3 linked regions of the Homo sapiens genome follow. The protein of the gene in region 1 purifies or fractionates together with the protein of each later gene. This does not show direct contact. Each region holds a gene or a part of one and is shown in the gene's direction. Other genes may lie near its edges.

Region 1 (7,112 bases):
TTACAGGTTAGTAGGAAATACAAAGCAGCAACATAATTATCATTTATGGCAAGTGCTATGGAAGAAATCGGTAAATAATTCACAGTGCTGATGACCAGGGCTTTCATTAACAGATGGCTTAGACCATTTTAGGAAATTCCTGATTGGGTAAAACAGAACATAAACATTTTAGCAATTAAGAGTTAGATATATCTTACAGTCAATAAGTATTCTTTTTTTTTTTTTTTAAACAGTGCCTTTGCTACCCTAGAAGAGGAGGCTTGTACAGAACTTGTTCCTTACCTTGCTTATATACTTGATACCCTGGTCTTTGCATTTAGTAAATACCAGCATAAGAACCTGCTCATTCTTTACGATGCCATAGGAACATTAGCAGATTCAGTAGGACATCATTTAAACAAACCAGTAAGTATCTGTTAAGAACTATTAGGGAAAATAATGTGTAGCATAGTTACAATTAATAGATTAGCATATATTTGGAAATTAAGATGTTTTGGGAGATGTGAATAGTTAGCGTTAGCTACTTTAAGAGTATAGATCTTACAAAGGCAGCAAGTATATCCCCTTTCATGTGGTATTCTTAAAGTAAATACATACTTGGTGTGGAAACTACAGCAGCATTTCACATGAATGCTCTGATACTTTTTAGAATGACTAAAGCAAAGGGATAAAAAAGTTTTTATAATCTGGATATCTGCTTTTACTTAATTCCTAATGTTTTTGAATCTACCACTTCATAAACACTGTAGCTTTAGAGTACCATATCTAGACATCTTTGTTTTTTCAGCAGGTACGGGGAGTATACTGTATAAAACAAATAGAAATTGGGGTAGTAGGTTTAAAAATGCTAAATAGTAATGCAAAAGTGCCTTGTTTCCAGTAGTGTTAGTAGAAGAGGAGGATGGATTTGTCTAATGAGGATTTAAGTGATAGTAGAATTTTAATATAGCTCCACATACCCTGCTGAATAGACTTCTATATGATTGCTATATCCAAAGTCTTAAGAAATTGTTTTATTTTTAAGTTACACTTAAGATTTGGTACAGGGCAGTTTATAGGTTTGCTTTGCTGTTGGTTGTTTGGTTTGGCTTTTGTGGGGGTTTGTTTTCTGAATGTCTTTAGAGTCTGTGCCCCTGTTTACATGATCACTATGTTTAGTCGTTTTATGGATCATTCTTTAGTTTGACACTTAAATGATTTTAAGTTTGTTTTTCTACAAAAGCATCTGTGTAAGTTTACCTGTTGATTTAAAAATGTACTATATAGTAACAGCCATATTACACGTTACAGTTCCATGACTAAAAGGAATTTTTTTGTGTGTGACAAGGTCTCACTCTGTCACCTAGGCTAGAGTGCAGTGGTGTGATCACAGCTCATTGCAACCTCCACCTCCCGGGCTCAAGCGATCCTCCCATTTCAGCCTCCCCTGTAGCTGAGACCACAGGCGTGTACCACCATTCCTGGCCAACTTTTTGTAGAGATAGTTTTGCCATGTTGCCCAGGCTGGCCCAAACTCCTGGGTTCAAGTGATCTGCCTGCCTCAGCCTCTCAAAGTGCTGGAATTACAGGTGTGAGCCACCATGCCCAGCCCCAGAACTAAAAATATTCTGTAACTTAAAGAGAAAAACTTAGGTCTGGGCACAGTGGCTCACACCTGTAATCCCAGCACTTTGGGAGGCTGAGGTGGGCAGATCAAAAGGTCAGGAGATCGACACCATCCTGGCTAACACGGTGAAACCCTGTCTCTTTAAAACTACAAAAAATTAGCCGGGTGTGGTGGGGGGTGCCTGTAGTCCCAGCTACTCGGGAGGCTGAGGCAGGAGAATGGCGTGGACCTGGGAGGCGGAGCTTGCAGTGAGCTGAGATCACGCCGCTGCACTCTAGCCTGGACGACAGAGCAAGACTCCGTCTCAAAAAAAAGAGAAAAACTTAGATCTTCCTTGATTGTGACTTTTTTAAGTAATAGATTTTGATTAGCTGTGTGTTTATTGATAGACTCTTTTTTTCAACAAGGATAAAAGATCAGTAGATCACTAGTTCTAGATCTAAAACTAGAACACGGTCATGTAAGTATAAAGGTAGGCAACAGAAAGGAAAACTTTAAAAGGGACTGTGCAGAGTGAAGAATGACTCTTAAAATGCCTTTTGTAATGATTTTACACAATTGCTCAAAATGGATTTTAATTTTCAAAGACTCAAAATGGTCTTGTTGACATGTGATAGTGGAATTTTATATGTTTTTCATCATTGTAAATAGGAATATATTCAGATGCTAATGCCTCCACTGATCCAGAAATGGAACATGTTAAAGGATGAAGATAAAGATCTCTTCCCTTTACTTGAGGTATGCAGGGCTAGTAATATTTAATCTGTTGCCAAGAACACATGTTCAAATCCAAAATGGGTATATATGATAAGAAAAGTGTTAATAAATTTATATTCTGAAGTAGACGGAGGAAATTATATGATACATACTGTTCTCTAACCTGCTTTACTTAATTGATAATAAATTAGAGTTTTAAGTTCTCTTATGTTATCTACTCTCTATATAGAGTAGATAGCATACTACTCTATATAGTATAGAGTAGATAACATACTGGGAGGATATATATACCGGGATATATATATATATCTTTTCACTCATACATATATGTTGAGTAGTGGGATTTGGTGCCAGTAAGGAGGTACTTATTTTCAAATTTGAAAATGTTTCCATGTGTACTTAACTACTTTTTTTTTTAACACCCCTTTCATTGCAAACTTTTATATGATGTTCTCGTAACTGAACACACTGTGAAATGTAGTCACTTAAACTTAGTTGAATTGACATTGATAGAACCAGTTCAGGCCTTTTCATTCTTGCTCCCTGTTATTTCAAGGTTCACCATCTTCTACCGTGGATTGTTCTTAGCCAAAGAAGTTAAATTTTCTATGACCAAGAGCAATTCTGGGCCCAGCAAAACAAGAAGAATCATTATGGTTCATTTTTTGTATGCAGTCGTCCCTCAGTATCTGCAGGGGATTGTTTCCAGGACTCCCCTTGGATACAGAAATCCAGCGATGCTCAAGTCCCTTATATAAAATGATGTGGTATTTGCATATGGCCTATGCACCTCCTCCCAATATACTTTAAATCATTTTAATTGTTTTTCTAAATACTTTTGATTCAAGATTGGTTGAATCCATAGATACAGAGGGCCAACTGTATATATATTACTTTCCGGCAGGATCTCAGAATGTGCCCAGTAAAGTCCATTCACAACATTGACCAGGATGGGAGCATGAAATGAATCTCTTCAATTTGAGGGAAAAATATGAACACATAATACTCAATCTGTCCTTTAAAGATAATGTTTCTTGTAGAAACGCTTCCTCTGAGTAAACCTGACCTGATTGGCTGGCAAACTAACAACAATGAATGGCTTCCAAAAGAGAGGGTTGGGGTGGGGGGAGGGGAACCTGCTACTGTAGAAACTAGTAGAGCAAGCTCATAAATGATCAGGATCCTGTTGAGCGCAGTTTCAAGCATTCATCATAATCTTCAGTATACCCAGAAAGTTTAGCATGTGTACTTTATTCTTCCTAGTGCCTATCTTCAGTTGCCACAGCACTGCAGTCTGGATTCCTTCCGTACTGTGAACCTGTGTATCAGCGTTGTGTAAACCTAGTACAGAAGACTCTTGCACAAGCCATGGTAATTTTTTTAAAATGTCTTCCTCTTCTTGACATGGTGGACATTTTTCTAAAGATAGGTATAATGTATACAGACTTTTTAAGTAGTTAATTAAAACCAAACTTACAAAAAACATTGTGTCTAATTTCAGCTAAACAATGCTCAACCAGATCAATATGAAGCTCCAGATAAAGATTTTATGATAGTGGCTCTTGATTTACTGAGTGGCCTGGCTGAAGGACTTGGAGGCAACATTGAACAGCTGGTAGCCCGAAGTAACATCCTGACACTAATGTATCAGTGCATGCAGGTGAGACTTGAAAGGTGAAAATGAATTGAAGCCTGTTTCTCTGTGTCACATTGGGGTTAATTTCTTCTTATTTCTTGTAGGATAAAATGCCAGAAGTTCGACAGAGTTCTTTTGCCCTGTTAGGTGACCTCACAAAAGCTTGCTTTCAGCATGTTAAGCCTTGTATAGGTATGAATATTTTCTACTGCTATGAATATGGTTTTTTAAAGTTAACATTTACATCAGCTTTGTTTTTTTATTATTAAACTGAAATTGCATGGAATCCCAACATTTATAAATGTACACTTTATTGGTTAAAGTAAACTTGCTGTGATTGAAACAGGCAAGATGGCAGGAACCCCTAATATTTCCTTGAGCTTGCCATCATCTCAGCTTTTTAGGTACTCCTGTGACTGGAGGAAAGCTTAGTAATATACTTTAGAGTAAAGGACATGCCCACCAGGGAAGCCTTGGTACCATGGACTAGTTAATAGATTCTTTTTTGAGTAGCCACCTTTTTGGTAGAGGTACACAGAAATAGTAATAATCAGGTTTTCTTCTCTAGCAAACCAGCATACTTTTTCAGATATTGCAGAAAACTTCCAACAAATGTCACTTTAACTGAGACTGGGCCTGGGGGCTCACACCTGTAATGCCAGCACTTTGGGAAGCCAAGGCAGGCAGATCACTTGAGGTCAGGAGTGCGAGATTCGAGACTAGCATAGCATTTGTCTTGGCCTTCTGTGACAATGATAAGAAATTCCTTGAATGTTGTACCCGGAATTGTTCTTAAACCTATGGGTTATAAATGAGTTATGGGATTTTTTTCCCCCTTTTCTGCATCTCAGCATGTTGGGTAACAATTATTTTAATACAGCCGGGCACGGCGGCTCAGACCTGTAATGCCAGCACTTTGGAAGGCCAAGGCGGGCAGGTCACGAAGTCAGGAGATCAAGACCATCCTGGCTAACACGGTGAAACCCCGCTTCTACTAAAAATACAAAAACTTAGCCAGGCGTGGTGGCTTGTGCCTGTAGTTCTAGCTACTTGGGAAACTGAGGCAGGAAAATCGCTTGAACCCGGGAGGCAGAGTCTGCAGTGAGCTGATACTGTACCACTACACTCCAGCCTGGGCAACAGAGCAAGACTCCGTCTCAAAAAAAATTATTTTAATACTTCATTTAAACCTTAATTTAAAATATTAATTGAATGTTTTGTCATCTGATATAATTGTGCTTTTGGATAACCATTTCTCAAAAAACTAACATAATTAACATTAATTATGATATATTAAGAACCATCAAGTTTAAACCTAACAGTGTAATGAATTCTTATGGGAAGCTTATCATTCTCATATTTACCACCTAATTTAGTTTTTTAGTTGAAACTTATATGAAAGGATTTAATTTTTTTATTATAAAGTGTTTAAGACGTACAAAAGTAGAAAAAATGTAACAAACCTCCTATCACCCAGCTTCAACTGTCCAGTCCTGTTTCCTATATACTGTTGTCAGTGGTGAGACACATAGATCTCAGATATTTTGGAGCAAATCTCAAACACAGCATTTGAAGTCTTAATATTTTAGTACATACTATACTATCTCTTCTTACAATTGTTTTTTGTTAAAGAAACCATGTTTTTTATTCTAAAGAGTTTCCTTTACTGTGGATTTTACTGATTGCATCTTTGTTGTCTTTAACATGTTCCTCTGTCCGTTGTATTTACTGTAAATTGTTTGGATACAGAGACTGAGGTTTAATGAGATTTACGTTGTTTTGTTTTTAAGACTTTATAGATGGTATTGTGTACTTAGTGTACATAGTGTCTAGTTGTCCCTCCTTTTTTTTTTTTTAATGTTACCAATCTTGATGATTGTCTCAATTAGTGGTTCTCAACTAGGGGCAATTTTGCCATTCGGGGAACATTTGCCAGTGTCTGGAGACATTTTGTTTGATGCTGGAGAGGTGCCATTGATGTCTAGTGGGTAGAAGCAAAGGATGTTGCTAAACATCTTATAATACAGGAGACAGCTCCCCTTCCCCCCAACAAAAAAATGATCTGGCCCAAACTGTCAATATTGCTGAGATCAAGAAACCCTGGCTTACATCTCCTGATTTATTAGGAGTTTAAAAAATTATGATATTCTAATTCTTCATTTAATAATGAAGATACTTATATAGGGAGACATTTCCCATATCAATAAATTACTATCCTGAGGTAAAATCATATAGCAGAGGCAAGATAAATACTTGATTCTTTTTTTTATTTACCAATTTTCAAAATAATGAATTGATTCCTATCATCCTCCAAAGGTATCTTTGATGTTTCAGAGTTTTGTTTTTGTTTGATTGTTTTTAGTGCTAGTGTGACTTCATGATGTTCAAGCTGTTGTACTGCTTGCAGTGAGAACTTAAGTTGGCTCCCGAGTCCTTTCATTATGACAAGATAGTCCACTTATTTTGCACATTTCCTGCCTTTGCCTGTAATGTGACGTTTTCTGAGAGTCCATTTTTTTTTAGTGGAAAATGTTATTCAGAGACCACAATCAGAGCACAAGAGTGAAAATTGCTTTAAAAGCCAAAATCATTGATTTTTTTTTTTTAGTCTAATTACAAGAGATTACTCTGACCAACTCTTTTTAGTGGTATGTAAAATATACCCAAACTTGTATTTCCTGTTCCACATTATTTGAAAGTTCATTGGCCAGATACTGTTTTCTTCAGTTTCTTAAGATAAACATTACCAACTCCTTTAAAAAATATTTTTAAATACAGTTGCCTAGTTTATTTCCACCAATTTTAAAATTGATGTTGCAGTAATTTTTTTAATGGTGAAACTTGTTATTTCTTGCTTAGATTTCTGTTTCCACCTAGTAGATTTCCTTTAAAGTACAATATACTGCTATTGAAAAGTTTACTACATAGTTTAAATTTTTTTTCTAGCTGATTTCATGCCAATATTGGGAACCAACCTAAATCCAGAATTCATTTCAGTCTGCAACAATGCCACATGGGCAATTGGAGAAATCTCCATTCAAATGGGTAAGATGTTTTTCCCTATTTAAAAGCATAAGGCCTGGCGCGGTGGCTCACGCCTGTAATCCCAGCACTTCGGGAGGCTGAGGCGGGCAGATCACCTGAGGTCAGGAG
Region 2 (7,112 bases), on another chromosome or scaffold:
CCAGCCTGACCAACATGGAGAAACCCCATCTCTACTAAGAATACAAAATTAGCTGGGCGCGGTGGCGCATGCTTGTAATCCCAGCTACTCAGGAGGCTGAGGCAGAAGAATCGCTTGAACCTGGGAGGCGGAGGTTGCGGTGAGCTGAGATCGTGCCACTGCACTCCAGCCTGGGCAACAGAGTGAGACTCCATCTCAAAAAAATTAATTAATTAATTAAATTTAAAACATTGGCTGGGCATGGTGGCTCATGCCTGGAATTCCAGCACTTTGGGAGTCCGAGGCGGGCGGATCACCTGAGGTTGGGAGTTCGAGACCAGCCTGACCAACATGGAGAAACCCCGTCTCTACTAAAAATACAAAATTAGCTGGGCGTGGTGGCGCATGCCTGTAATCCCAGCTACTAGGGAGGCTGAGGCAGGAGAATCGCTTGAACCCGGGAGGTGGAGGTTGCGGTGAGCCGAGATCGTACCATTGCACTCCAGCCTGAGCAACAAGAGCGAAACTGCGTCTCAAAAAATAAAAATAAAAATAAATAAATAAATAAATTTTTTTTTTTTTGAGACGGAGTCTTGCTCTTGTTGCCCAGGCTGGAGTGCAGTGGCGCAATATGAGCCCACCGCAACTTCTGCCTCCTGGGTTCAAGCAATTCTCCTGCCTCAGCCTCCCAAGTAGCTGGGATTACAGGCGTTTGCCACCACACCTGGCTAATTCTGTATTTTTAGCAGAGATGGGGTTTTACCATGTTGGCCAGGCTGGTCTCCAACTCCTGACCTTGTGATCCGCCCACCTCGGCCTCCCAAAGTGCTGGGATTACAGGAATGAGCCACCATGCCCAGCCTATTTATTTATATTTATTTTTTGAGACAGGGTCTTGCTCCATCACCCAGGCTGGAGTGCAGTGGCACCATCATGGCTCACTGCAGCCTCTCCCTCTCGGGCTCAAGCAACACTCCCACTTCAGCCTCCCAGGTAGCTGAGACTACGGGGATGTGCCACTATGCCCAATTAATTTTTGTATTTTTTGTAGAGACAAGGTTTCACCGTGTTGCCCAGGCTTATTTTTAATTTTTTCAGAGCTAAGGCCTTGCTATGTTACCCAGGCTGGAGTGCAGTGGGCTCCACTGCACTACATAGTACACTACAGCCTAGAACTCTTGGCCTCAAGCAGCGTCCTCCCATCTGAGCCTCCCAGGTGGCTGGGACTGCAGACACGTGCTACCACGCCTGGCCTAATTTTACTTAACTTTTCTTCTCCCCACTATAATTTTAAGTTTCTTGAGGTCATGAATTGTTATTTTTTGTTATTGTTATTCCTTGATTTCCCAGTAATAGGCTTTATGACTGACTTCCTGTTATAATATTAATAAATAACAGTATAGGCTTTAGCTCTTTTATTTATTTTTTAAAATTTATTATTATTATTATTAGTATTTTTGTGGCAGGTTCTCACTCGGTTGCCCAGGCTAGAGTGCGGTGGCATGATCTTGGCTCACTGTAGCCTCCAATCCCAGGTTCAAGCGATTCTCAGTCCTCAGCCTCTTGAGTAACTGAGACTACAGGTGCCACCACATCTGGCCAATTTTTGTATTTTTAGTAGAGACGGGGTTTCGCCACATTGCCCAGGCTGGTCTCGAACTCCTGACCTTAAGTGATCCACTCACCTTGGCCTCCCAAAGTGCTGAGATTACAGGCATGAGCCACCACACCAGCCGGTGTTTTTAAATATAATGCCAGGAAGATTTTTATTAAATACTCATTCCGAAGGATAATTCCCAGTCTGGTTCATGTAACAGCAAATGTCTGTGTGCTAGGCACTGAGCTAAGTAGTTAGATGCAGAGAAATTTATGATCACTGCCTTTCTAGAGCTCCATAATCACCACGTCACTGGCCCATACAATACATGTGGTCAGTACTATAATAAAGCTACATGTAAGTTTTGGATGACGAAACTATTAGATCTGATTTTGGCTAAGGTGGATATGATCTCCGCATCAATAGTCTTTCCCCTGTTATATTCGCAGTCAAGAAAAATGCTGTAAGTGGAATTAGAGGGTTTACCCAGGAGACATTTAAACTCTTAGTTCCTAAGCTCAATATGGTATATAATGGTTATATATGTATATACACCTTTTTTTTTTTTTGAGTGGAGTTTCGCTCTTTTTGCCCAGGCTAGAGTGCATTGGTGCCATCCGGCTCACTGCAACCTCCATCTCCCGGGTTCAGGCAATTCTGCCTCAGCCTCCCGAGTAGCTGGGATTAAAGGAATGCACCACCACACACGGCTAATTTTTGTGTTTTTAGTAGAGACGGGGTTTCACCATGTTGGCCAGCCTGGTCTTGAACTCCTCACTGCAGGTGATTGCCCACCTCAGCCTCCCAAAGTCTTGGGATTACAGGCGTGAGCCACTGCGCCTGGCCTAATTTTATATTTTTAGTAGAGACGGGGTTTCGCCATGTTGGCCAGGCTGGTCTCGAACTCCTGACCTCAGGTGATCCGTCCGTCTTGGCCTCCCAAAGTGCTGGGATTACAGGCCTGAGCCACCGTGCCCGGCCTAATGGTTTTATATGTACAGGCAGCAGTGCTACTTTCTCACTTGCTTTATATGAAAAAGTGATCTTGCTTTTGGTAAGTTTCTTGATATTTTGTGTGTGTGTGTGTTTTTTTTTTTTTAACTCACACTACCCTGGATCACTTTTGGGATTGTCACAAAAGGTTAACTATTACTGCTGTATGTGATATACCTTACTTATAAATGGTTCATTTGATTCCATTTTATTAAAAGTATTTAATGAAAATCTTAGGTCTGGAAAAGTGTAAAATAATGGCATATTTGTAAGATAATTTGGAATGTTTAGAAATTAAGCAAAATATTTTAGGAAGACCAGAGTAGCCTGTAGTTTAGATAACATTCCTTCACCAGGAATATTTTGAAGTACTGTTCTGAATTTGGGAGAAGGAAAGTCCCTGGATACTTCGGCTGTTAGATAGCAAGTTATTCAATGATATAGCTTGTTAAAGATCTGAAAGAGTTTGGGCGCAGTGGCTCACGCCTGTAATCCCAGCACTTTGGGAGGTAAAAGCAGGAAGAGGATCGCTCGTCCAGGAGTTTGAGACCAGCCTGGGCAACATACAAAAAAAATTTTTTTTTTTAGCCAGAGCCTCGCTCTGTCACCCAGGCTGGAATGCAGTGGCGCAGTCTTGGTTCACTGCAACCTCTGCCTTCTGGGTTCAAGCAATTCTCCTGCCTCAGCCTCCCGAGTAGCTGGGACTGCAGGCGCCCGCCACCACTCCTGGCTAATTTTTGTATTTTTGGTAGAGATGGGGTTTCACCTTGTTGGCCAGGCTGGTCTTGAACTCCTGACCTCAGGTGATCCACCCGCCTCTGCCTCCCAAAGTGTTGGGATTACAGGCATGAATCACAGCGCCCGGCTGCTAAATGATTTCTAATAAAAAAGTTTTTTTTTAAAGTTCCTAGTTGGAGGTCAGATGCGGTGGCTCACGCCTGTAATCCAGCACTTTGGGAGGCCGAGGTGGGCGGATCACAAGGTCGGGAGTTCGAGACAAGCCTGATCAACATAGTGAAACCCCGTCTCTACTGAAAATATGAAAAATTAGCCGGGTGTGGTGGTGGGTGCCTGTAATCCCAGCTACTTGGGAGACTGAGGCAGGAGAATCACTTGAACCCGGGAGGCGGAGGTGCAGTGAGCCAAGATCACGTCATTGCATTCCAGCCCGGGCAACAGTGCAAGACTCTGCCTCAAAAAAAGAAAAATAAAATAAAAGTTCTGGCCGGGCATGGTGGCTCACGCCTGTAATCCCAGCACTTTGGGAGGCTGAGGTGGGTGGATCATGAGGTCAGGAGATCGAGACCATCCTGGCTAACATGGTGAAACCCCATTTCTACTAAAAATACAGAAAATTAGCTGGGCATGGTGGTGGGTGCCTGTAGTTCCACCTACTCAGGAGGCTGAGGCAGAATGGCATGAACCTGGGAGGCAGAGCTTGCGGTGAGCAGAGATCACACCACTGCACTCCAGCCTGGGCGACAGCAAGACTCCATCTTAAAAAATAAAATAACATAAAACTTCCTAGTTGGAAAGCATAAAAATAATATTTTAAAATTATTTTTATTGTTATTATTTTTTGAGACAGGGTTTCACACTGTTACCCAGGCTGGAGTGCAGTAGTATGAACATGGCTCACGGCAGCCTTGACTCTCCTGGGATTAAGCTATCCTCCTGCCTTAGCCTCCCAACTAGCTGGGACTACAGGCGTGCACCACCACACCTGCCTAAGTTTTTTATTTTTTGTAGAGACGAGGTCTGTCTTTGTTGCCCAGCCTTGACTCCCAAGTGCTAGAATTACAGGTGCGAGTCACTGCACTTGGCTTATTACTGTTTTTTTAACAAAGGCAGAGGGACGCAGTGAAGAGCCTTAGCCTTGTCCTGAGTCTACGACTATAATGACTTAACCTCACTATGCCTTATATTTCATGTAGCCAAGGTAGATGTCATATTTGCCTTTGTCAAATTCTTTTTTTTTTTTTTTTTTTTTTTGAGACGGAGTTTCGCTCTTGTTGCCCAGACTGGAGTGCAATGGCACAATCTCGGCTCGCCACAACCTCCGCCTCCCGGATTCGGGCAATTCTCCTGCCTCAGCCTCTTGAGTAGCTGGGATTACAGGTATGCATTACCACGTCCGGCTAATTTTGTATTTTTAGTAGAGACGGGGTTTCTCCATGTTGGTAGGCTGGTCTCGAACTCCCGAGATCCGCCCACCTTGGTCTCCCTAAGTGCTGGGATTACAGGTGTGAGCCACTGTGCCCGGCTTGTCAAATGCTTTAGTAACAAGAAAGGTTAGAAGTTCCTTGGCTCTTGAAATTACCTGGTTGTATTTAATGTAAAAATCTGATAGCACGGGATTCTTCTACCTCCTGTGTTCCTTAAAAATGGTCTGAAGTATAGTAGCTAATTGAAAGTCTCTTTGGTTATATTTCAATGGAGAGAAATAATACAAAGTTACAGTTTTGGCCGGGTGCGGTGGCTCAGGCCTGTTATCCCAGCACTTTGGGAGGCCAAGGTGGGTGGATCATCTGAGGTCAGGCGTTTAAGACCAGCCTGGTCAACATGGCAAAACCCTGTCTCTACTAAAAATACAAAAATTAGCCGGGCATGGTGTTGCGTGCCTGTAATCCCAGCTACTCAGGAGGCTGAGGTATGAGAACCGCTTGAACCTGGGAGGCAGTGGCTGAAGTGAGCCAAGATTGCTCCACTGCACTCTAGCCTGGGCGACAGCAAGACTCTGTCTCAAAAAAAAAAAAAAAAAAAGTTACGGGTTTGAAGAGTATGTTTTAAAAGATACTGACATTAGTGATTACATTGGAAAATGTGGGTCCAGAGGGAAAACTGATTTTGAAGACATGAGTTACATACAGAGTGTCTAGTTTGAGGAGCTGGTAAACATCAAGTAGAAAAAGTCTAGCAGGCAATTGGAATGTGGAGCTGAAGTTTAGGAGAGAAAGCAGCAATGGAAAAGTGATATTCTTCTGCAGGCAGGTGATTACAGTAGTATGATCCAAAGGTATGGGATGGACTAGAGGGCTAAACTTTCAACCATGCCTATTTTGGGTACTTTGATAAACATCTGAAAAAGCAGACTGGAGATTTTGGGCATAAAAGTAAGAGAGAAGCCAAGAAAGATAATTTTAAGAAGGTTGCTTGTGGTTAGTGGTTAGTTTCCTTTTTCTTTTTCTTTTTTTCTTGAGACGGAGTCTCACTGTTGCCCAGGCTGGAGTGCAGTGGCACAGTGACAGCTCACTGCAACCTCCGTCTCCTGGGTTCAAGCAGTTCTCCTGCCTCAGCCTCCCTAGTAGCTGGGATAACAAGGCAACCACCACCACGTCCGGCTAATTTTTTTATATTTTTAGTAGAGAAGGAGTTTCATCACGTTGGCCAGGCTGGTCTCGAAGTCCTGACCTCAGGTGATCCACCCTCCTCGGCCTCCCAAAGTGTTGGGATTACAGGCGTGAGCCACCACACCAGGCCTAATTTCCTTTTTCTTACATAGATTTAATAAATTCTCTACCAAAGAGCATGAATTACTTTTGAAAATGAGTAAAAAATTTTTAGAAAAAAGAAAGGGGTGTTGATACTCCTAAATGAGAGAGGTTAAACAAACTGAAGACTTTCTGGGAAAATGCATTAAAGTATCAGTAACCTTGGAAAAGTAATTTCTAATTTTTTTCTTTTAATTTTTTTATTTTTTTGAGACAGTCTCTCTCTGTCTCCCAGCTGTAGTGCAGTGGTGCTATCTCGGCTCACTGCAACTTCTGCCTCCCAGGTTCAAGTGATTATCCTGCCTCAGCCTCCCAAGTAGCTGGGACTACAAGCGTGCGCCACCACGCCCAGCTAATTTTTGTATTTTTAGAGATGGGTTCCACCATGTTGGCCAGGATGGTCTCCATCTCTTGACTTCGTGATCCGCCCTCCTCGGCCTCCCAAAGTGCTGGGATTGCAGGCGTGAACCATCGCCCCCAGCCTTTTAATTTTTAAAATTATTATTAATTTTCCACGCAGTCAGAGGGGAAAGCAATTTCTGATTACAGTGTTAGTGAGTGGAATGCTAGTAAGGGGGCAGGGATAAGATTGTAAGTTAAAAGGGTGGCCATATTGGGAAATTCGTTGATGTGAGAGTGTGCGTTTTTCTTTTTCTATTTTTTAAAGTTGAGCTTATTTTGGGTGGCAGAGAAAGCAGCAGGGAAGCTTGGCTGTATAGTAGAATAGGGGCCTAGGTTTTTGAGGCCTGTTGCTACTACCTGTTGTACTAATAGTTTTTCATTCATGTTTTATAGTCATCATTCCTTGAATTACATTCTTCATTACATTCTTCACAGTGCTTCAAGAACTCATTTTCCTATAGCATAAATCTGATCATGTATAACCCTTCACAAAAAATTCATACTCTTTAAATTTTTTGGCCACAACCTACCAATTCATTTTTATCTTTCACTGTTCAAAGTCTTCTCTGATTTCTGAGTTTACGTCCCTTAGGTTCTAACTTGAAATTTTACTTATTAGCCCAATTGGAATTAAACTCCCAACATAACTT
Region 3 (7,112 bases), on another chromosome or scaffold:
CTCAGGTGATCCACCCGCCTCGGCCTCCCAAAGTGCTGGGATTACAGCCGTGAGCCACTGCACCCAGCCCACATTTTAGTTTTACCCTGGTAGAAGGAACCTTGTTTTCTGATTCTAGGAAACACTTTTTTTTTTTTTGAGACCGAGTCTCACTCTGTGGTCCAGGGCCCAGGCTGGAGTGCAGTGGCATGATCTCAGCTCACTGCAACCTCCACCTCCCAGGTTCAAGCAATTCTCGTGCCTCAGCCTCCCAAGTAGTTGGGATTACAGGCATGCACCACCATGCCTGGCTAATTTTTGTATTTTTAGCAGAGGCGGAGTTTAGCCATGTTGCCCAGGCTGATCTTGAACTCCTGAGCTCAAGCAGTCTGCCCACCTCAGCCTCCCAAAATGCTGAGATTACAGGCATGAGCCAACCGGCCAGGCCGGAAACACTCTTAAAACTTGAAGTTAATGAGAAATCTGGGATTTGGTGTCTATTATTATTTGTGTTCTGGTAATCTTTTGATCATTTTTTGGTTCCATGGGGCCCAGGATCAGGTGACAACCAGATCTAGTCCTCCCTCTGTCCTCTCAAATAACCACACTGTCTTTGTGAGCTGTTTATTAGTCCATCACATAGGAGACTGATCCCACATGGTCTTTAAGATTAACTGGTCCGTTCCCTTTGCCAAAAACATTTGTTACCTTCCTTGGCTACCAGGTGATGATCCCTTGTCTTGAAGATTAAATGGAAGAATATCTAATTTATGGGGAAAGGACACAGGTCAATTGTCAACTCCCTGTTAAAAGGACAGGCAAGAGAAGTTGACATGCTGTGACCAAATTGTACTATAGATGAGATTTTAAGAAGCAGTTATCTTAGAAAATAAAGATTGCTGGAGCCTAGAGTAGTCCTGATCATTTAGTGTACCAGCTGATATTTTCTGATAAATAAATAAATTGCCTATAATTAATTATCACATTTTCCAGAATGGGCACCTGTTCTCTTAAGCCAAGGAAGTGTGTGTATGTGAGAGATCCATTTGATTCATGTAGCGTGTCAATCTGAAAAGGATAAGATAGGTTACTTCATCAGCCTGGTGTCCTGGAATGATTTTTTTTTTTTTTTTAATTTTATTTTTTGAGACAGAGTCTCGCTCTGTCACCCAGGCTGGAGTGCATTGGCATGATCTCGGCTCACTGCAACATCCGCCTCCTAGATTCAAGTGATTCTCATGCCTAGGCCTCCCAAGTAGCTGGGATTACAGGCGCGTACCAACACGCCAGGCTAATTTTTGTATTTTTAGTAGAGATGGAGTTTCACCATGTTAGCCAGGCTGGTCTCGAACTCCTGACCTCAGGTGATCCACCCACCTTGCCCTCCCAAAGTGCTAGGATTACAGGCGTGAGCCACTGCGCCTGGCTGGAATGATTTTCTTGAGCCCCTGTGCTTGCTATTTTTGCTAGTCACTTGGAATCTGGAAGAAACCCAGCAAACCTCTCTGAATATTTAAAGTCTATTTAACAGGGCTAATTAGATAAGGAGATGATGCCAGTAACCACCTTCATCAGATAGCACTCCCATCCTGAATTGAGAAGAACATTGCTTGAAAGTTTGGAAGTTATTATGGTGTACAGTATTCTGCAGATAATTGTTAACCTTTCATTTTTCTTTCTTTCTTTTTTTTAAGATACAGAGTTTTGCTCTGTCACCCAGGCTAGAGTGCAGTGGTGTGATCATAGCTTACTGCAGCTTCTAACTCCTGGGCTTACGCAGTCCTCCCAACCTCAGCCTCCCAAGTGGCTGTGACTACAAGCACATGCCCATACTTGGCTGATTTTTTTAGTTTTTTTCTGGAGATGGGGTCTTGCTGTGTTGACCAGGCTGGCCTTGAACTCCTGCCCTCAAGTGATCCTCCTAAAGTGCTGAGATTATAGGCATGAGCAACCACACCTGGCCCCTTTCATTTTTCTTAGGAGGATTGAGATTTTGAGTTTGATCAGGTTTGTAGGAAATTTACTTCTACCTAAATAGGGTAAAAAAAATTTTTTTTAAGTTTTTTTATTCGTTAGAGTAAAAAAACTTTTCTTTTCTTTTTTTTTTTTGTTGCACTGCTAAGAGTCTAAAGCATGCTTTCTAATTCTGTTTTGTTTAATAGGCAGGTTCATATTAAGCACTTTACAAACATAGTAGTTAAAAAGACTGGAGAGGTTATGAACCACCGAAGATCTCTTACGTCAAAGTCTCATATTCTGTACTCAGCTTCATCAACTCTTTTTCTTTTGTTTTTGTCTGACTTACGGTGAGATCATGAGAATTACCATCTTTTGAGAATGTCAGCCTTTTATTTTTGGTGTATTCGTGCTTTATTTTTTTATATCTTAAAATGAAGTTCTTTCCCTCTTTTTCTACTTCTTTCTCTACTTTTCCTCTAAGAATGGCATTATCCAAGTGGTGGAATGGGTTGCTTTCATTCAGAAGCTTTAATTCTTCGTGCCAGCATGCACAGACTTTCTTACATAACTAGATTTAGACCCTAGGACATTTTCTTCTTTGCTTATTTCTTTTTTGCCTATTACAAATGATGACATTTCCCCTATCATTTGGCCTTGTCTAGTTCCCAGTAGATAAGTCACAGAGAATACATTTTTCTTCCCTTCTACCACCATTATGTTGAACAGGGGAGGGGGGAAATTATCTCTCCCTCACCTTTCCTGGCATTCAGATGCTGCCGAGATACCTGTATTGATTTCCCCATCTTAGATGCCTAGAGAGATGATCCTGCTGGCTGGAAGTTTGCTTTCTGGTTCTCATGGGCACTTTTCTGGCTCTTTTGCAGTATAGCGTAAGCACTGTCCACCTGCGAAGGGCGCCCCTCAAGGATCCAGACGCACTCCTGGGCATGTGGCGGGCACTGAGCCGAGCGGAAGGCGGCCACGCTCGGAAAAAGGCCAGTGGTGGAGTTTTCTTTTTCCTTTCAGCTGTGGTTTTGTGGTGCTTACCAACTCCCATGAGAAATAGGGGGCTTGTCCAGGGGGTCTACTCAAAACCGCATCCTTCTCCAACAATCCCTGTTCACAATTCTTATTAGTTGACTGTCAAAGTACTGCCAAGTCTTGTCTCTCTAGGAGACCCTTCAGACCAATAGCATGTATTTCTTAAGTGATCCTTTATCCTCCATGCTCTCCTTTGGGTTTTCCCTTCTAAACCAAGTTTTAGATAGATAATGTTTTTGCCATATGGGGTGATAAGAGAGAAAGGGGAGCAAGGATAACGAGAGGGAAGCAAAAGACTAAAAGAGAATGAGACTAGAGAATGAAAGAGGGCAGAGGATTTCTTAGGAAGTCAAAGGATGCCATTTTGGATAGGAATAAAGGTATAATTAAGGAGAATCTAGAGTCAGGGTGAAAACCCAGATTAACAGAATGAACTGTCCTTATTTCACCATGGGAAAGGGAACTAGAGAAATTAAATTTCCTAACAAAAATAGCTTTAGAAAACAACTTCATATAGCCCTCTTGGCAGTGTTGCCCTTTGGCTCAACTTCATAGATTGAATGTTAGTTTAATCTTAAACAGTCGTTTCCAAGCAAAGCAAAATAAAGCGGATATTTATGTCTGTGTTTCTTATATTTTCCCTGCCTTCATCATCCCAGAGTAAGTTATTAGGCTATTCTTTCTCATATTTTTAAAGACATTGTGTTAAAGACACCAGGCCGGGCACAGTGTGGCTCACTCCTGTAATCCCAGCACTTTGGGAGGCCGAGGAGGGCGGATCACAAGGTCAGGAGATCAAGACCATCCTGGCTAACATGGTGAAACCCCATCTCTACTAAAAATACAAAAAAATTAGCCAGGCGTGGTGGCGGGCGCCTGTAGTCCCAGCTATTCTGGAGGCTGAGGTAGGAGAATGGCCTGAACCCGGGAGGCAGAGCTTGCAGTGAGCCAAGATCACACCACTGCACTCCAGCCCTCCAGCCTGGGTGACAGAGCAAGACTCCATCTCAAAAAAAAAAAAAAAAAAAAAAAACAGACACCAATCAGTAAAACCAGAAGTCCCCCAACACACACACACGTACTTTTTTTTTAACAAATATACTTAGTTGTATTTCAAAAAATATTGTATCTCTGTTAAGTGAAAAATCTGTAAGTAGGGTTTTACTACGTAACAGAAACCAATGGATAGGAGCAAATGTGTTGATCAGATTTAAAATAAGGCCAAGAGCTTTAGAATTATTTTCTGGCTTTTCCTTCTTTGCATTAGTTTGTTTCTTAGTTTGTTTTTTAATTGAGACAAGGTCTTGCTCTGTCATCCAGGCTGGAGTGCAGTGGTGTGATCATAGCTCACTGCAGCCTCAAACTCCTGGGCTCAAGTGATCCTTCCATGTTAGCCTCCTTAGTAGCTGGGACTACAGGTGTGCATCACCACACCCAGCTAATTTTGCATCGGTTTTATAGCACGGAGTTTACCATCAACATCATACTCCTTGGAAACAATTATTTATATAGCTTTTAAGTAAACTAAAGTATTATGGGTATGACACTCTTAAATGGTGAGTGATATCCTTGTATTTCTAGTAGGTATGTGGTCTAGACAGAATAAATTGGGTTAAGTAAAAGAATTTTGTATTTTCCCTCTTTCATCCCCCTATAACCTAATGCAAATAAGCTCTTTGTCTTTGAATTTTTGAGGCTTTGAAACATGTGGTCATGTTGGACATGTGGTCATAATTTTTGAAACTGTAGGGGTCTGTAGAGAAGGAAATCTGTTCATCTATTTTATTTTAAAATTTGTCTTTAGTTAACAATGATGATGTTATTTGAAGATTTTCTTTGCCATTATATATCTGCTTTTGAGCAAATATATGTTACTTGAACTTTAATGCTGCTTCTTTCATGCGTGAAAGAAATTAGCTTTTAGAAGGAGTCCATCTTAAAATACTTGTTGTAGGTACAGATCCCTTGGCTAACTTGGGTTTTTGGCCCCTACGTTGGTCTTAATCTTCTGATGATCTCTTATTCTCACCATCCCTTCCAGTCTCAGTGATGTGTGAAGCAAGGTGGTTAGTGGAATTTTGTATATGATCTTTGATAGGTTACCAGACATGATTAACTTATTACTGTATTAGAGTGAAGAGCTTCTAGCTACTGTGATCATCACTGGAGTGCATCCTTCTGGCAGGGATATGGAAAAAATATATTCATGCTAAGCTTTTCTCTGAAGAGAAAAGACTTGGAATTCTCTGGTTGATGAGAAAGGACCCTTAAGCTGTGATAGGACCTATGTGTAAAGTTTGCCTGGTCTTCATGCTCTAATGACTCCTGTGATCAGTGCCAGAGTGAACTGATGGAAAATGTGTGGTTCTTTTTCCCTTTTGTGAGCTGTGAGCCTCAGTATTACCCTACAGCTATATGAATATCAGTGCTTTCATTGGAAGGACAGTTGTTCAGATTTGTTTAAGCTTAAAGTCTTAAGTTTCAAACCCTTCTCAAAAAGTCTCATTCCTCAGTATCTTTTCACACTGTATATTGAAGAATTTCTTCATTTTGATCTTGTTTTAGTTTGTCCCTGTAGTAATGATCCAAAAATTATGCTCTTGCTAGGAACATTAAAAGTCCAAATCATAATGACCTATGGAAAAATTATTTAAATCATGCCTTAAAAGAAAATACTAGGCCAGGCACGGGGGCTCATGCCTGTAATCCCAGCACTTTGGGAGGCTGAGGCGGGCGGATCACTTGAGGTTGGGAGTTTGAGACCAGCCTGACCAACATGGAGAAACCACATTTCTACTCAAACTACAAAATTAGCTGGGCGTGGTGGCACATGCCTGTAATCCCAGCCACTCGGGAGGCTGAGGCAGGAGGATCGCTTGAACCCGGGAGGTGGAGGTTGCGGTGAGCTGAGATTGCGCCATTGCACTCCAGTCTGGGCAACAAGAGTGCAACTCTGTCTCAAAAGAAAAAAAAAGGAAATGCTGTTATGTCCCAGATAATTTGTGAATGTGCTTGTAGATTATTGTGAAGGAAGTTACATAAGGCACACCAGAATTGGTTCACCATGTCCAGGGAGGCCAATCCTGGGTGGACAGTGACATTCTAAGCAGACTTGAAGCCATGAAGTCTAAGTATCATCCATTATCACACTAAGTATCTGAACTCAAAGGAATTGTGGATGCCCTTACTAGTTGTCTTTCTCCTTTAAATGGATTTCACATGTGCATTTTAGAGTGCTTTTTTCCATTGAACTGGAACATTGCTATCCAAGAGATGTTCCTGAATTATCTGACTCATCTGTGTTTTAGAATCAGTTCTGATAGTTGACTCCCATATCTTCGGGTTGTAGATACCTGTTGTTTCTTCTCTTGCTACAAATGGGTTTTATAGATTTAACCAGAGTCTGTACTAACCAAATTAATCCTAAGAATTAGAATGGATTGCAGTATCTGTAGGGGGATTGTGCAAGTTTCAAGTGTTTGCTTGTGATTTAATCATTTAATAACTCTTTCAGAAAGAATGTGGCTTCTTCTGTGGCGGTCATGCCAAAAAAAAAAATCCACTTTCCTGAGTGAAACAATAGGTGCCATAGGAGTGGATCAAAAACTGCAGCTTAAAGGCATAATAAGAATGAATTAAGAATCTAAGAATTCAGTAAAACAGGACATAAAATATAAAAATCAATAGCTTTCACATACACAAACCATAAAAGGTTAGAGGACGTAATGGTTTTTTAAAAACCAAAACCAATTTACAGTATCAACAAAAAAGTAAATGCTTAGGAAATGTGTAAGAACCTATTAGAGGAAACTTTTTTTTTTTTTTTTGAGATGGAGCCTTGCTGTGTCACCCAGGCTGGAGTGCAGTGGCATGATCTTGGCTCACTGCAACCTCCGCCTCCTGGATTCAAGCGATTCTCCTGCCTCAGCCTCCCAAGTAGCTGGGACTACAGGCGCCCGCCACCACGCCCGGCTAATTTTTGTATTTTTAGTAGAGATGGGGTTTCACCATGTTGGCCAAGCTGGTCTCGAACTCCTAACCTCAGGTGATCCACCTGCCTTGTCCTCCCAAAGTGTTGGGATTACAGGCGTGAGCCACTGCGCCCAGCCTAGAGGAAACTTTTTGAGACAAGA

What was found.
Region 2: the proteins of TNPO1 (region 1) and IPO7 fractionate together in Homo sapiens (co-fractionation; 2 studies listed by BioGRID). This does not show direct contact.
Region 3: the proteins of TNPO1 (region 1) and IPO9 fractionate together in Homo sapiens (co-fractionation; 2 studies listed by BioGRID). This does not show direct contact.

What each region holds. Positions count from the first base shown.
Region 1 is NC_000005.10:72,889,553-72,896,664, forward strand, and holds part of TNPO1 (transportin-1), read left to right. Parts: intron 1-233; coding exon 234-405; intron 406-2,257; coding exon 2,258-2,344; intron 2,345-3,586; coding exon 3,587-3,694; intron 3,695-3,824; coding exon 3,825-3,983; intron 3,984-4,063; coding exon 4,064-4,151; intron 4,152-6,905; coding exon 6,906-7,004; intron 7,005-7,112. UniProt on the Homo sapiens protein: Functions in nuclear protein import as nuclear transport receptor. Serves as receptor for nuclear localization signals (NLS) in cargo substrates.
Region 2 is NC_000011.10:9,387,634-9,394,745, forward strand, and holds part of IPO7 (importin-7), read left to right. Parts: intron 1-7,112. UniProt on the Homo sapiens protein: Functions in nuclear protein import, either by acting as autonomous nuclear transport receptor or as an adapter-like protein in association with the importin-beta subunit KPNB1.
Region 3 is NC_000001.11:201,832,132-201,839,243, forward strand, and holds part of IPO9 (importin-9), read left to right. Parts: intron 1-7,112. UniProt on the Homo sapiens protein: Nuclear transport receptor that mediates nuclear import of proteins, such as histones, proteasome and actin. Serves as receptor for nuclear localization signals (NLS) in cargo substrates.